2 separate regions of the Homo sapiens genome follow, and region 1 is linked to region 2. The links come from fine-mapping of genetic effects on gene expression. Tissue or cell type: whole blood. Region 2 holds a variant in brackets; the other region holds the start of a gene. All regions are shown on one strand. Distances are from middle to middle.

Evidence for each region. PIP is the estimated chance that this variant, and not a neighbour inherited with it, causes the effect.
Region 1: it holds the start of EPS8L2, and the variant in region 2 is fine-mapped to the expression of EPS8L2 in whole blood (TOPMed, PIP 0.94).

The regions. Positions count from the first base shown.
Region 1 is chr11:702,916-710,915 of GRCh38, reverse strand. It overlaps EPS8L2 (EPS8 signaling adaptor L2), which reads right to left and starts at 4,685. Exons shown (of 21, transcript NM_022772.4): 1 at 4,628-4,685; 2 at 1,465-1,586; 3 at 1,308-1,363; 4 at 430-494. The coding sequence starts at 1,508. It overlaps TMEM80 (transmembrane protein 80), which reads right to left. Exons shown (of 5, transcript NM_001042463.3): 5 at 6,787-7,971. The coding sequence ends at 7,766. It also overlaps a transcript of DEAF1 not described here.
Region 2 is chr11:723,180-731,179 of GRCh38, reverse strand. It overlaps EPS8L2 (EPS8 signaling adaptor L2), which reads right to left. Exons shown (of 21, transcript NM_022772.4): 15 at 7,827-7,939; 16 at 6,351-6,456; 17 at 5,333-5,452; 18 at 5,010-5,082; 19 at 4,696-4,876; 20 at 4,429-4,561; 21 at 3,453-4,279. The coding sequence ends at 4,199. Among named protein-coding and RNA genes, the nearest start is that of TALDO1, 20 kb to the left of the region's middle. The variant G/A (reference allele first, on the strand shown) is at 3,728.

The DNA of each region.
Region 1 (8,000 bases), 20 kb after region 2:
GAACCAGAGGGGCGCTTTCCCCGGCCCCGTGGCTGAGCCCGGGACAGTGTGGGCAGTTCTGGCTCTGGCCTCCCCCGGCCCCGTGGGTGTCAGAAGCTGGGCTGACCACTCTCCCTGGAGCTTTCCTCCCTTCCTCCCTTCCTCCCTTTCTCTCTTTCTCTCTTTCTCTCTTTCGTTTTGAGACAGGGTCTAGCTCTGTCACCCAGGTGCCCAGGCTGGAGTGCAGTGGTGCGATCTTGGCTCACTACAGCCTCCGCCTCCCGGGCTCAAGTGACCCCCTCGCCTCAGCCTCCCCAGTAGCAGGGCCTACAGGCCGGCACCACCATGCCCGTCTAATTATTTTATTTTTTGTGGAGACGAGAACCTGAGGACAGCCATGTCCTGAGGGTGCTCCCTGGGGGCGGAGCCTACCTGGGGGCGGGGCCTTACCTGGACGTGGTACTGCGAGGTCTCGTGCATGATGACGTTGGAGTTGGAATACTTCTTCCTCTGCTCTGAACCGGGAGACACCAGTCACTCCCCCGACGGGCAGGACCCACAGCCTCCCGTCCAGTTGGGACTGGACCCACAAGGGAAGGTGGAGTCAAGCGGAGGGAGGCTGCTCCGTGGACCTCTTGGCCACCAGGAAGGATGTGGGTGTGAAATCAGGACCTGCAGGAAGCCCCCTCCCTCCCTCCAGGGAAGCCCCCTTGGAGAAGGACGCAGCTCGGAGAAGGCGATGGGCTTGCTCTGAGTGGAGTGGGGACCAGCAGCCTGTGCCCGGGGGGTTTCTGTCCCGGAGGGTGAGGGGACAGGAAGGGGGTCCCAGCCCGGCTTCTTCCCACTCTGAGAGCTGCCAGCTTCACTCTCCCTGCCCTCCCAGGTCTTCTCGCTTTCCAGACTAGGCACCTTGTCCAAAGACATAAGTGAAGGGTGCATCTAGCTAGCGAGAGGGCAGGGTCGTCTCTGGGGAAGGGCAGAGTGGGGGGAGGTGGGGGCTGGCCAGGCCCCCCTCCTGGAGCAGACACCTGGCGGCTTATCCTGCCTGAACCTCGCTGTGATCAGGTTACAGCAATGAGTGCAGCGGAATCAATATTGATGCTCCCTGAATTATTAGTAAAGGCCTCTCCCCTTACGGGTGTGGGGGAGGGGATCCAGTGGCCAGGAGCTTTCGGAAGGTTGATTAGGGTCCAGAGGCCTCCCTGGGCACCCGGAGATCCCCTGGGCCAGACCAGGCACAGCTGTGGGGCAGGAGCAGCTGTCCCCCACCTGGATGCAGTGCCCATTTCTCCCCTGTGACGTCCAGCCCGTTCTCAAACCTCACTCACCAAACAGGTCCTTGGGGCTCATCTTGGCCACACCGTCGGACCGGCCCAGGCTGCCACTGCAGGGGAGGGGCTGTCAGGGCAGGGCCAAACTGCACCCCTCCCTGGGGACTGTTCAGAGGGTGAGGGTGGGGTATTCGGGATGGGTGGGAGGGCTCACTTGGTGGCACCCGGGCAGCAGCTCACGGCCCCGGACTGGCTCATGGTGTCTTGGGTGGCGGCCAGCGGGAGAAGGGCAGACCTCAGTGTGGCCCCGGTCTGAGGCCAGTGCCTGTCCCACACCTGGGTGGACAGAAGGGCTGCGCTGACACTTCCTCCGGCCTGGCTGGTTCCTCCCCTCCTTCCCTGGGCCAGATCCCTGACTGGCCTGGCCTGGGTGGGGGTCCCTTGGGGGGCAGAGCCCCTGCCCGACATCCCAGTTGGCCCCACGTCCCAGTTGGCCCCACGTCCCAGTTGACAGTCGATCAGCCTCGTCATGCCTCAGACCCTAGGTGCTCCACAGGGACCCCCCAGAGGCTGACTGGGAGGCTCTGACAAGGGCCCTGGGGGCAGAAGGCGCCTTCCAAGCTGGGCAGCATGGAGTTTAAGGCCCTGGTGCTGTGGGGAGGGGGGTGGGATGGGTAAGGGGAGGGGGATGAGGTGGGAGTGTGGGGGGAGGGGGGTGCGGTGGGGGTTGGGGGAGGGCGGGTGGGAGCTGCAGGATGGCAGGAGAGGTGAGGCTGGAGTTGGGGTAGGTCCTGAAGTCCAGAGGGAGCCCGGCTCTAGCCGCCACTCCTGCCCCACCCCAGGCCTGCACCCCAAGGGGCTCCTGCACCCACATGTGGACTTGCCACCCACACATGCCACCTCTGTCCAGGCCCCAGCAAAGAGGCTGGCCCTTGGCTCTTTCCTGGGCCTGGGAGACCTGGCAGGGAAGAGGCTGTGCGGGCAGGAAACCCTGGGGTCCCCGGGGTGCAGTGTTTCCTCACCTCGAGGGCAGGGATGCGGCCAGGTGGCCAGCGCAGAACCCCTGGCAGCAGCCAAGCCTAGGGGAGGGACTGGAGGGCAGGTGTGGTGGGGGCTGAGACTGGGAGCCAGTCCAGTGGCCCCAACACACAGTATCACTGCCCCTCCAACGAGGTAGGGTGGCTATGGGGCAGGTGCCTCTGGCCTCCCCCAGGGGCAGAATCCTCAGAGCCTGTCTCTGGGCTCCTAGTGCTGACCTCTTCCCCGAGCATTTTGGGGAAACTAAGGCCCAGCCGCCAGGGCAGACAGGTGGGTCTGATTTGGGCTGGACCCTAGGGGCTTCCCGGGGGGATGGACAGAGCCTGATGGCCCTGAACCAGGCTGACTTGTCCCAAGGGGACTATGCCCTGTGGGGACCTGGCTGTTCTGTGGCTCTGTGATCAGCTCCCCACAGGTCCACACCATCTGCCTCCTGCCAGGGCTGCAGGGCTGTCCCCTGTGGCTTCAGAGTTTGGGTCTGCCACGGTGGGGGTCACCAGCCACTGCTGTTGGTATGGAGGGTCAAGGGAGTGGCTCGGAGCACCCGGGACTTTCTGGTTTGACCAGGTCTGGCCTAGTGGGAGGGTCTGGGAGGCCCGGGGGCACTGCCGCTGACATGAGGGGCTGGGTGCACCAGGGGGTATGGCCACTTCCTCCATCCATCTATCCGTGGAGAATGTCTGGAATGTTCACGGGCTCAGTGGCGAGCCTGAGTGTTTGCTTAATGGGATTCCTGGCGGGCTCCACCAAGGGCGCCAGGCACGTGTGTCCAGGCACACACCTGGGCGAGACACCAACGCACCCTTGCAGACTCAGGCCTGGGGGCACGCAAACATGGAGGGCTGTGACACGCGACCCCCCTGGGGAAGGCCAGGTTCCTGGCCTTCGGTTGCCTGCAGGGCATCGGGGACCTCAGGCCCAGGCAGGGCCGGGCAGCAGTGGGGTGGGTCCAGGTGTGGTGTCTGGGTCTGAAGCACATGGGTATGGGGCTGCCTCCTGCCCTGTGGGAGCCCCGCCCCCCTGGGGAGGCTTCTTTGGCCCACTGGTGGTGGGGACGAAGCCCTGGAGGCCCAGGCTGCACTTTGTACTGTGGTCATTTTCCCGGTGTGAAGTGAGGCAGAGCGGGGTGCCCGGTCAGTCGGGCTGTGGAGGGGAGGAGGTCCCAGCAGGGCAGGAGGGTAGAGGGACGGGCTCCAAGTTCAAGTTCCAGCTCCACATGCTGAGTGACCTTGGGGAGGGGTCAGCTGAGTCACAGGGGCTCCAGGCTGCCCTCATAGGCGCTGGGTGGGGCCCTGGAATGGGGAGGCCCCTCAGGCCCTGGCCCTGTCCTTGTTTGGAAGCTATGGCTTGAGGGAGGAAGGGATAAGCTGGGGAAGCTGAGGGTGGGAAAGGAGACCGAGGCAGGCGGAGAAGGCCCGGTGGGAGAGCTATGCCAACAAGGCCTGGGTGCTAAGCAGGCCCGGGAGAGGCTGGGACCCAGGAGGGGCCGCGAGGGGAGGAGGGGCCGCGAGGGGAGGGGCCGCCGCCAGCTGGGCCTGCCTCCCAGCACAGCCGACCCAGGACTGAGCACGGGGTGGGTGGGGGCAGAGGTCCGGGCATGCCCGGCCCTGCCTCCCCCTCCCCTGCCACCAGGGACACCCCGCAGCAAGGGGCAACGCCAGGCAGCTGGACGCAGGGACCAGGAATCTAGGATGGCTGAAGTTCGCGTGCCCACAGGCTCCTGCCAGCCCACCCTCCTGCCTCTCCTGGCAGGGCCTCTGCAGCCCCTGTCCCAGCCTCCCCTCCTCCCTGAAACTCCCACCCCCAACCCTGACCTGGAGACTGACCCAGCTGGTGCTTCCCGGCCACTGGTTTCCTTCTGGGCTCCGACACCCAGGAAGTGCCTCCTGGCTCCGGCCCACAGGGAGTGGGTGTGCAGTGCTACCTCCACGGTCAGGCCCTCGGGAGGGTCCTGCTGCTCACAGAACCGGGAGAAGCCTCCCTACCACCAGCGCTCTCCGGACGCAGGGATTGCCCCCACCAAGCCCCAGAGCTGGGAGTGGGCAGGACGGGGCAGGTGAGTCACCCATCGCTGGCTTAAAAATATCCTTGCTCGCCGGCCGCCGCCCAGGACCGACGGGGGCAGGCCGGGCTGCAGCAGGACCCGTCCAGGAGAGGTGGGGACTCGACCAGGCCCCCAGCCCCTTGCCCCGCGCCCTCGGCCCGGCCGCCCTCCAAGTGCCCCGCGCCCTGCGACGCCGCGTTCGTCCCGGTGTCCTGAACCAGAAGCCCCGCGTCCCATCGCCACCGGGTAAACTGAGGCCCGGGCGGGCGCGCTCCCCCGTGTCCGCAGCGCTCACCTGCCTCCGGCGCCCCGCGCTCGGCCTGTCCCCTCGGCGCTCGCCGGTGCGTCCGTCTGTTCGCGCCTCGGCCGGGGCGCCAGGTCTCCCGCGGGCGGGTGGGACGCTCGGCGGGGCCGGGCCGGGGCGGGGCCGGGAGAGGAGGAACCTGAGCGACAGGTTGCGGAGTCACCCGAGAGCGGGCGGGCGCGCGGGGGAGGAGGGCGTGGGATGGAGGCGCCCCCGCCGGCCTCGGACCCAGCTCCGCCCCGCCCCCTGCCCCGCCTGGGCTCCAGCCCCAGCCCTCTGCGTCCTCCCCAACACCCGCCTGGTGTGCCCCTCCGCGGGCCTAGCCCCTAGAGCTGGGGCGCTGGGGACAGGCGGGGCGCAGGGCCGCCTCCGCGGGATGAGCAGGGCGAGGCCTCGAGCTCTTCCTTGGGCAGGGCCTAGCTGCGCCCCAGCAGGCCGGGGGACGGGGGAACGCTGCCAATGGGACTTCGGGGGCAGCGCTGGCGCATTGCTGGGGAGGGCTCCAGCCCTGGGGAGGTCAGAGCCTCCGCCGGGCCAGGTGCACCCCTCAGGTGCCCCAGGCATGGGGCAGAGTCACTTCCCTTACCGGGCCCACCGCAGGCCCAGGGGCAGAGGCTTCGGTGAGTGGGTGGGTGTCAGGCAGGACCCAGCCATGCCCACCCCAGGCCTGGAGCCCTGAGTTCACAGTGCAGCTGCTCCTCCAGGCCCCCCTTTCTGCCCAGCCTGGGCACTGAGGGATGGGGTGTCAGGGGAGGTGGGGACACCTCAGGCCCTCTCAGGATGCCTCTCTCCTTGCACTGCCCCGTGGTCAGGCCCAGGCCCCACCTCTGCCCACCACAGTGGGACTGTCTGGTTCCGTCCTCATCTGCCCGGCTTCCAGGATGGCCCTTCTCCCCAGCTGCTGTGACCGCTCAGAACAGGGCCAGGGTGCAGTGGACACAGCGGGTAGCACCGGCTGCCACAGCAGTCAACTGGACGAGGACGAGGTGAAGGGGCACAGGGCGCCCCAGGCCCATGCAGGGACCCAAGGCTCCGGCTGCCGGTCCTGGGTAGGGGTGGGAATGAGCGTGGCCAAGAGTCTGGGTCCCCGGGCTATGGTCCCAGAGGGGCAGGGCTAGCGTGTTTACCCTGGGCTGGCCGGAGCACTTCCTGGGGAGGCGCCATAGGTGAGCTCGGTGGAGGGCTGGCAGGAAGTGGCCCTCCTCCTTCGGGCCCAGTGCCTGCCCCTGAGCCCAGGCAAGACCTGGCTTCCTGGTTTACAGCCTTTGCCGTTTGATCTCCAGGAACCTGCCGTGATCCTGCTCCATGCATGAGCTTGCCCTGACCCAGAGCTCAGGGTCACACACGCCAACCCCTCGGTGCACCCGTGCCCTCACCCTTCCTGGAGGCAGAGCTGGGAGTGGCCAAGTGGGAAACAGGCGCTGGAGAGGACAGCTGGGGGGTGGGGTCCCTCTCCACTCCTAAACGGGTGCCTGTCAACACGATTTTGAGTGCGGAGCCTGCCCTCAGGAGACAGTCCAGGCTGGCCTCTCGGGCCCCATCCACTCCGGGTCACCTGGAGCCATGGCGTTCCCTGTGGAACAGGTGACCACTGCCTTTGTGTGCTCGCTGAGACTGGAGGTATCAGGATCCATTAACCATGAAGGCAACAGGTCTCCAGCTTCAGGGAGGGGGTCCTTCCCTGGTCTGCATGGTTTGTGGGCTGGGTCCTCCAGATGGCAGGTGTGCCCAGCTGGTCTTCTGCGAGTGCAGGCGCTGGTGAGGGAGGTGGCCCGAGGCGCTCAGGCGCTGGTGTGTGAAGTGGGTCCTCAGGGCTGTCCTGCAGCTCACCGTGGCCACTGGGGGCCACAGACAGGTCAAAGGAAGTCGGCCCAGGACAACTGGGTGCTCCCACCGCTTCCACGAAGACAGGCAGGAAAGACTGTCCAGGTGCCACAGCCACAGCCACCCCAGCCGAGGGAGCCCCAGTGGAGGCCCAGGACAGTCCCGCAGCCTCCTGCCCTCAGGAGTCCACCGAGCGGAAGGCGCCCGGCAGCCAGGGCCCGAGGGCGAGGCCAGCCAGGAACTGACCAGCTGGCAAGTGGGGTGTGCTCTCTTGCAGGGCAGGAGAACTGGAGATGGGGTGGGGGAGGTGGCCATAATTAGGAGAATTCAGGGAGGCATACACATCTCTTTATTTACAAAATGCGGTGAAGAGAAAATATCTAGATATTTGGGTGTAATTATTCCAAACATAGAAAACACACAATAGAATCAAGTGAAGGGAAAGCTACTGTAACAGCTTAGATACTTTTTAAGGAGAACTGATAGTAAATCTGGGAATGGGAAAAAAACACAGAGCTAGAATTTGTTTAGCACTCCGTGCAAAAGGCAAAAGCTGATAAAACTGGAGTGGACGGAGGCTCCGAATGTGGCCCTCCGCTGCTCTCTCTCCTGCAGTCTCATCCCCGGCCTTAGCCCTGACCTCTCCTCCGAAGCCCCTGAAGGGAGAAGTGTGGCTAAGATGGAAATTGCTAGGCAGCAGAGCTGTTGGCTTGTTTGCATTTATTGCTTTAGGAACCCAGAGTCCACTCTTGCACCGGGCCTGCCTGCCTGTGAGGCAGAGCTGGGGTTGCTCAGAGCACAAGGCCTACCCCATCCTGCGTCTCCAGCCCGACTTGGAAACACAGGTGGGGCCTGGCCACGGAGTAAACTGGGATCTCAGAACACAAATTAGGACCATTGGGGAACTAGGGGGTGATGGGGGATGCAGTGAGATGAGGCCTCTGTTCTGAAGGGCTCTGTCCTCCCTCTCGGCCCTGGGGGCCCATGGGGGTCTGTGGAGGCCTGGCTGCTAAAGCCAGACCCCACTGACAGGGCTGAGTGTGCGCTCCTGGGACTCATCTTGAAGGCAGTTCTGTCTGGTCCCTACCCTCCCCGCAGCTGTTCCCAACACCAGGGCCTCCAGCAGTTTGTTCTGCCCTGGCTCCTGCTCCCACTCCTGCCAGAACAGATGGAACCATCCAAAACCATCTATGGCCAGTCACTAGGAAAAGTGCCCTTCCTGTCCAGGAATGGGGAGGTGACAGCTGGGGGACTGGTCAGGCCCAGGAGGAGGGCCCCAGTGTGGGGTATCCCGGGTGTCCGTAGCTACCTGGTGAAGGCCGCGATGGCAACCACCTGCAGGACGGCCTCCAGGCCGTGAAGGGCCAGGAGCGTGGCGCTGAGGGCCCAGTCCGCCCACAACACTAGGGCCTGCCAAAGCAGGAAGTGGGCAGAGAGGAGGGCGGTGCCAGCCGTGAGGGCCAGGCTGGCGGCCAGCGGCCTCTCAGCCTCTGTCAGGTTGCCCCTGGTGCCTGGAGAACAGAGCAAAGGGGAGGGAAGG
Region 2 (8,000 bases):
ATCTCACTGTGTCGCCCAGGCTGGAATGCAGTGGTGCCATCTCAGCTCACTGCAACCTCTGCCTCCCAGGCTCGAGGGATCCTCCCCACTCAGCCTCCCGAGTAGCACAGGCAGTGAGACCACAGGCACTCACCAGCACGCCTGGCTAATTTAATAACTTTTTTTCTTTTCTTTTCTTTTTTTTGAGACAGAGTCTCTCTCTGTTGCCCAGGCTGGAGTGCAGTGGCATGATCTCTGCTCACGCAGTGGCGTGATCTCTGCTGACTGCAACCTCTGCCTCCCAGGTTCAAGCAATTCTCGTGCCTCAGCCTCCTCAGTAGCTGGGACTACAGGTGCCCGCCACCATGCCCAGCTAATTTTTTGTACTTTTAGTAGAGACGAGGTTTCGCCGTGTTAGCCAGGATAGTCTCAATCTCCTGACCTCGTGATCTGCCCACCTTGGCCTCCCAAAGTGCTGGGATAACAGGCATGAGCCACCGTGCCCGGCCTAATAATTTTTTTTTGTAGAGACAGGGTCTAGCCATTTGCCCAGGCTGGTCTCGAACCCCTGGGCTCAAGCTATCCTTTTGCCTTGGCCTCCCAAAGTGCTGGGATTACAGGTGTGAGCTACTGCGCCCGGCTGCAAGTCTTTAATTTTGCCAAAATCAAACTCATTGACTCCCTTTTTAAAATTTTCATTATTTTATTTTTGAAACAGAGTTTTGCTCTTTTGCTGGAGTGAAGTGGCATGATTTTGGTTCACTGCAACCTCTGCCCCCTGGGTTCAAGTGAGTCTCCTCCCTCAACCTCCCAAGTAGCTGGGATTACAGGCACGCGCCACCATGCCCGGCTAATTTTTGTATTTTTAGTAGAGATGGGGTTTCACCATGTTGGCCAGGCTAGTCTCGAACTCCTGACCTCAGGTGATCCACCTGCCTCGGCCTTCCAAAGTGCTGGGATTACAGGCGTGAGCTGCCGCGCCTGGTATCCACTGCTTTTGAAGTTTTGTACAGAAAATTCTTCTTCCCCTTTGTCACATGGATATCCTGGCATCTTCTGTGAACTTGGTCGTTTTGCCTCTCATGACGTCTAGTACTGCTGGGGCTGGTTCAGCTTTGTGGGGTTAGTGGGGGTCCCTGTTGTGTTTCTCCACACATTTTCCCAGCACCACTCTCACCACCTTCCTGGGTAACGGGTGCCCCGGGCTGGGACCATGGCATCCCCGCAGGTGTGAGGAACATCTTACTGTACGTGCTGCTGTGTCAACCTCTTGGGAAATCAACCGTTTTGTAATTTTTTTTTTTTTTAAAGAGACAGCCCTTCCTAAATGGCATGGGAAGCCCCTCTTGGGTTCTGCGGGGCCTGACTGGGCACGGGCGGACAGGGCCAGCTGTGGGGGAGGACAGAAGGGGAGCAAGCGCCACAAAGACATGCTTGTCCCGAGACAGACGGGCCTTGTTGGTGGAGATATTTGCTTGTGGCTACTGGTGGCCCCACTGGCAGCTCAGGCCACCCACCCTGAGGTCTGATGTTCAAAGCCCCGCCCTCCCTCCTCGCCCAGTGTGGACTCTCCCACACTCACGGCCAGACCCTCGGCAACCCTGGCCCCACCAGGGCCAGCACCAGCAGACCCTCCTTCTTTCTGTGGACCTGCCTGATGGGGAAGTGGGTAGGGAGGCCGGGGAGGGAGTGAGTGGTTAAGGACACGTTGGAACTAAGAGAGATTGCATGTTAACCCCAGCCCCTGCCCCAAACTCGGGCCTCGAGCAGGTGACCTGGCCCCTCTACGGGTCATTCTTATCCACGCCTGCCTCACGGGGCTGCCACTGGGGCCTCCGGAGGCCGCGGGCAGCACTCAAAACACCACAGGCCCCCAAGAGTGATGCCCTCAGGGCAGGAAGGGGGGCAATCCTCACCCCTGGGGCGGGTGGCCAGAGAGGACACAGAGAGCCAGCCCACCCGATGCCAGGTGACCCTGTGCCCATCACCAGGCCGGTGAGGTCGGTGGTCCCATCTGCTCTTGAGGGGGGTCTCAGGAGGTGGCAGGAAGCCCCTTGGAAGAAACGGGAGGTAATTTCTGGAAGCCCAGAGGTCCGAGCAGGCAGCTGGGGCCAGGGTGCCTCGGACTCAGGGCTCCTGGGGTGGGAGCCTGCTTGGGGCCTAGGGCTGGGATCTGGGGGCTGGAGTCTGGGGGTCTGGCTTCCTGGGGCTCCTCAGCTGTGCAGGTGGCAGAGTGGGGCACAGCAGGTAGGGGGCTCTAAATGGGGCTGGGGGAGGTGGACAGGGAGAAGGCTGAAGAAGCAGGTGTAGATCTGGGGCCCTCAGAAGCTGAGCAGCCCAGCCTGGAGGCTGCATATGAAGCCCAGACCATCCTGGTGGAGGAAGGGTCCTGTTGCTGGGAGTGGTTGGGGAGTGGGCAGCCTCCCTCACTTCCAAGGACTGGCATCCTGGGGCCCACAGAGGCCCCTTTTGGAGCAGATATAGCCCCGGTGCCTATCCCCGTCCTGAGGTGGTGGCTCAGCAGGCAGCGGGAGCTGCAGGTTGCAGGGAGGAGGGCCGGTGCCCCCATCCCTCCCCTTTTCCTCTTGGACCTGTCTCTCTCACTGCAGGGTCCATCTGACAGGGTGGGGGGGCCTCTTCCGGGGGCCTGGAGGAGTGGTGGTGGCCATCAAGCCCGGGTCGTGGCTCAGAGGGCACCAGACAATCCCTGCTGCCCCGACCAGACACTGTGGTTAAGACTTGGCCTAGTGTGGCCTGAGCTGTGAGTCAGGGCTTCTGTGGCCTGGTGTCCAGGCCTGGCTGGGTGGTGGACCAGGCAAGGGACACGCCCCCCCCAGCCCAGCCCCACAGTCGCCCCTGCCCAGGCCAAGACCCCAGGACTGTGTCCCCGGATGCTCCGCACCAGGGTTGGGTTCACGGCTGCTATGGGGACACATGGTTGTGGGTTGCCCCCTGCCACCAATCCAGGGCGAGGGCACCCCTGGCGGCCACTCACGGCAGCACATGGAGCGGCCGGCAGAGGGCACCAAAGGCCCCTCCAAGGGTGCGGCTCAGGTGGACCGCCCATCTGGCGGTCAGGTGCCCCTCCCACGCAGGGTGCTGAGTGTGGCCTGCTCCCCCTTCTTGGGAGCCTCCGTCAGCCTGGGCTAAGATCTCCAAATCCAGTTTCAGCCTTGCCCTCTGACTCATGGCCCTCCTGGGGCCTGCCGACCGTCTGGCCGAGCTGGCTCTGTCCCCACCGCTCCCACTAGGGTTGTGCCCAGCGAAAGCCGGGCTTGGATGACACGCTTTGGGCCTTCTGGTCGCTGGGCCTGGGAGGGCCACAGGAAGAGAAGTGGGCAGGGTCCCCTCTGGGCTCAGGGGCAGAGCAGCCTGGCGGACGGCCAGCCCTCTGCCCGGCACTGCTTAGAAAAGGTGCAGTTTCCGGGGGCTCCAGGACCCACTCCGACTCCCAGAGAACTGAGACACACGGCTCCTGGGAGACTTAACTGGTTTAATTGCTTAGCCCTGGTGCCTCAGCCACCTCTCATCTGTAGGGTGAGACTCAAGTCCAGGCACCAAGACACACCAGCACCCCCAACACCATGCGGGGATCATTGGCCTGAAACTTGGCCAGAGAAAGCTCCAGTCCTGGGCCTGTAAGAGTGGGCGCTGGGAGTGTCTGAAGCCGGCACGGTGTCCCCTGCGTTGTCGGCCCTTGCAGGTGAAGTGTGTGTCGTTCCCCCACTTTCCCCCGAATGGCACCCAC[G/A]GCCTCCTGCTGGAGCCCCTCCCGGGCCCCCCTCAGGGAGCAGAACTCTGCGTGTGTGCGAGGTTCAGCCTGGCCAGCCTGGAGCTCCAGCTCACCCTGGGGTGTGGATGGATGTAGAAGTGGGTGGGGATGGGGGAGCATCACAGGGGCCAGGACCCCCCAGGTGCACAGGGGAGGCCAGAGAAAGAGGCCCCAGCCCCAGGGAGTTCTGTGGCCTCAAGAGAAGGTGGACAAGGGGCTGGCACCACCAAGCAGCAGGTTTGGCTGAGATTAGTCTTGGTGTGGGCTGAGGCCTTGGGTACTGTTTGGCCTAAGGATGGGCGTTGTGCCTCCAGACAGGGGCAGGGACCTCTAGCCAGCACCACACCCCCTCCGTGTCCTTGATACAAAATACATACACATATAAAAATAATACTCCATGCATTGTGGGTGGGCTTCCCCTCCGCAGGCCCCAGCCCAAGGCAGCTGGGCCTAGCTGTCCTCCCCCCTCCTCTGATTCATGGAATGAAACTTGTTCATGAGTTCTTCCAGCTCCGACCCACTTTGCTGCTTCTAGGGAGGAGAAATGGGGGCATCCTCAGCCGGGGGTCCCACGTGTCTGGGTGCCGGCCTCCCCCTTGCTCTGCGACCCCAGGAACGGGCGGGGGAGAGGAGGGCGCAGGGGCAGGAGGGGCGTGGCGCCGGAGCGCAGGCGGGCTCACCTCCAGGAAGGCCTTCTGCATGGTGAGCTGGCTGTACACGCGGACGCCCTCCTCGCCGCACACTTTCTTCAGCTCCTCCTTGTTGAGGGAGAAGAGCTGCGGCCCGGTCAGGATGCCCAGGTTCTCCACGATCCTGGGGGCGGGCAGTTGGGCGTCAGGGCCGCGCTGTGAGCGAGGCTGCCTGGCGCCCGCCCCGACAGCTGCGCACCTTCGGCCGCACCTCCCACCCCTCGCCCGGGCCCCAGCTCATCCCCCGCCCCCGCTCACCGCGGGCTGAAGGCCTTGGCTTCCAGCCAGGCGCGGACCTCGTCCGGACCCGACTCGTAGGTGAGCGGCTGGCTCACGGGCTGGCTGCGCTCCACGCGGAAGTGCCTCTGTGGCTGCGCCCTGATGTTGCTGATTTTCCGGATGAGCTCGTCGTTGACCTCGTCCATGTGCTGCATGAGCTCTGAGGGGGCGCGCGACTCAGGCCCGCCGCTGCCTTGCCCCTGCCCCCGCCCCCGGCCCAGGGACCCCCCCCACACTTCCTCCCCCAGGTGGCCCTGGGCCCGGGACCCCCGCCTCGAAGCAGCAGCTCTCACCGTCTTTGTTCCCCGGGAAGCTTGGGGGTAGCTTGTGGGTCGGGCTGGCGGGGCCCCAGTACTTCTGACCGGCCTGCGGGGGCGGGGGGCGATTAGGCTCCCCACGCCCCGCCCCCGCCTCCCAGCACCTGCCCGGGACCTCCCCACCCCGCCAATCCCCCTACAGCCCCGGCCTGCGGACCAGCCCTTTCCTTCTGCCCAGGGAGCCCTGCACCTGCCCCAGTCTCTCCAGCCGCGGGGCTGGCCTTGGGGCGGGGCTAGGCGCAGGCGGGGCTGCTCCAGGAAGCTGGGGGCTGCGACCCCAGGGACCCCCGCGGGCTCACCTGCTCGAACGGGGCGCCGGCGTCCTCCGGTCGCGCCTCGCCTAGGATGTTGCAGGGCACGTACCCCGCCTGGCCGCTGCGGCTGCGCAGCTTCCACCACTGCCGGCCGTCCTCCAGCACCTGCGGGGCGCGCCGTCAGCCCCTCCCCACACCCAGGCTCTGCGGGGCTGGGACCACCCGCTGGCGCCGCTTTACAGAGGTCGGGAGCGCCCTAGGGTCTCCCGGAGCCCCGCTTCGCTCCATTCTCTCCGCACCCCTGTTTCCACCCCTCCATCCCTCGCTGGGCTGCTCCTCCCCCACCCTGCCTCAAGGAGTCTGGGGGACCCTTTTTTTCTCGGAGACAGGGTCTCACTCTGCCGCCCAGGCTGGAATGCAGTGGTGCAATCACTGCCCACTGCAGCCTCGACCTCCTGGGTTCAGGCGATCCCCCCACCTCAGCCTCCAGAGTAGCTGGGACCACAGGCACACACCACCACATCCAGATAATTTTTATGTTTTTTGTAGAGATGGGGTTTTGAGGTGTTGCCCAGGCTTGTCTCGAACTCGTGGGCTAAAGGGATCCTCCCGCCTTGGCCTCCCAGTGCTGCGGTTACAGGCGTGAGCCGCCGAGCCAGGCTGTGGATGTGGCCCACTCCCCCCTAGCCTGCTCCACTTTCTGTCCCCCAGTGGGTGGCCTGGATTCCGGCTGGCAGATGCGGCCAGTGCAGATGTGGGGGCTCCTGGGTGGGTGTGAATGACAGGCCCCCGCTGAGTCCACGTGGTGCAGATGCTCCCCCCAGCCTGGCACAGGGGTCTCTGCATGCCTTTGGGGAGCCCCAAGATGGGAAGGCCCCTCCAACAGGCTGGGGATCCTGATCAGAGTCCAAGGGCGGGGACCCTGGAGAAAGGGGCCAGCAGCTGTGCCCCGTCCTGGCATCACCCAGCCTGGCCCTAGACCGCTCCCCACCTCCCCTGGTAGCCCCTCCCTTGAAGCCCTGCCCTGTTTCCCCCTCTTGGACCCCGTCCTCCAGCCCCTCACCTCTAGGACCTCATCCTTGAGCACCGATAGCTCGTTGGCATTTCGGGCTGTGAAGTCATACAGGATCTTGACGTACTTGGCCATGGCTGGTGTTGGCTGGTAGCCCCTGTGAGGAACAGGAGGGGCTGAGGCCCAGTCTGGTGGGGGTCTCCTCTGAGACCTGGGCAGTGGCTGGGGGGCAGCAGCTTCCCAGGTGCACGACTGGCTGCCTCTTTTCTGTTCTGGAGGTCACCGTGGAGAGAGGCTGCAGGCAGCGTCAGCCCGGAATGGAAACTGTGACAGCCCCAGAGCTTTGGGGCCCTGCGTGGAGGCGGGGCAGGCAGGAGGTGGGCGTGGCGCAGGGGCCTGTGGTACAGCAAGGCTGGCCCATCCCAGGCCACCTCAGGGGTCTCCAGTCCGGCACCCCAGGGGAACCAGAGCCAGGGGCGTTCCTGGGAAACGCCAGGGTCACAGCTCCCCGCAGCTGGCCAGTGAGGGCCAGCATGTCTTCAGAGCCGTGGCCCCTCTGAGGACTGAACACAGCCCAAATGGTCCAGTGGAGGACGGGTCTCAAGCTCCTCTCTGTGGGGTGGGACCTGCACCTCAAAAGCGCGGGGGGGCTGGCCCTGGCTGAGGGGTCCTGGCTTTGGCATGTAGCAGGCCTGTGGCTGTCACCTGGCCAGGCCGTCCATCCTGGTCAGTGTGGCCCTGGTCATCAGGGCAGCTCCCGTGTCCAGGTGCTCAGGGAAATGAAGTGGCCATGGACTGTCAGGACATGGCCAGGGTGGACAGACCAGGAGCTGAAGTCAAAGGGTGGAAATGTTTTTAAGTGTGGTCCTAGGCCAGGGACCACGGGAGCCAGGCTGACACTGTGGGTGAGGGGAGGCCATGCTTGCTTAGAAGATGGATTGCTGGCCCCTCTTTACCCCAAAATTGAATCCTGGGGTGTGGGAGGGTCAGGGGCTTCCCATGCAGATTGGACCAGGAATGAGCACAGAAGGGAAGAGGAGAGGCAAGGAAAGACGGGACTCCCCTAGTGCCATAGGCTTGTTCTTTGTCCTCTTTGGAAACAGGTGGGGCTGGGGGTGGGAGGAGGGGAGAGGCTTCACTAGCCCAGAACCCCAGTCTCCTCTTTTGGCTCTACCAGAGGTTGGGCCTGAATCAGTCCCAACAGCCCCAACAGGGTGCCAGTGTTTGGTGAAACCACTCAAGTTCAGTGGTTTAGTAGTTTCTAACCTTGGTTCTAAAACATACATGTGGATGCACAGAAAAAGCTGATATATTAGGGTAGAGAATTTGTGCATGACTTTTGAAATGTTTCCTTTAATTATATATCATGCAGTTGAAATGAAAACCGCTTCAAATCTGGAAAAGTATTTTAAACCACTTGAACAATGCACTTGCCACCACCTGGTGGCAGCGTACCCATATGTTTTTAGAGACTGTAGGTTCTGAAGGGTTTCACTTTCATGCTCCCTCACTTTGAGGGGGGCTTACCTGTGAGTATGTGGGGAGCTGACTGGTGGTAGGGCATCCCCCGGGGGGGTGGGCTCTGAAGTGGGGCTGTGCTTCTGGGAGTTTCTTATGGACTGTCGGCTCACTGGACTCACCTGTGGGGAAGGTGGGCGACCTGAGTTAGACATGGGGCGGGGCTGGGTCCCAGGACGAGGG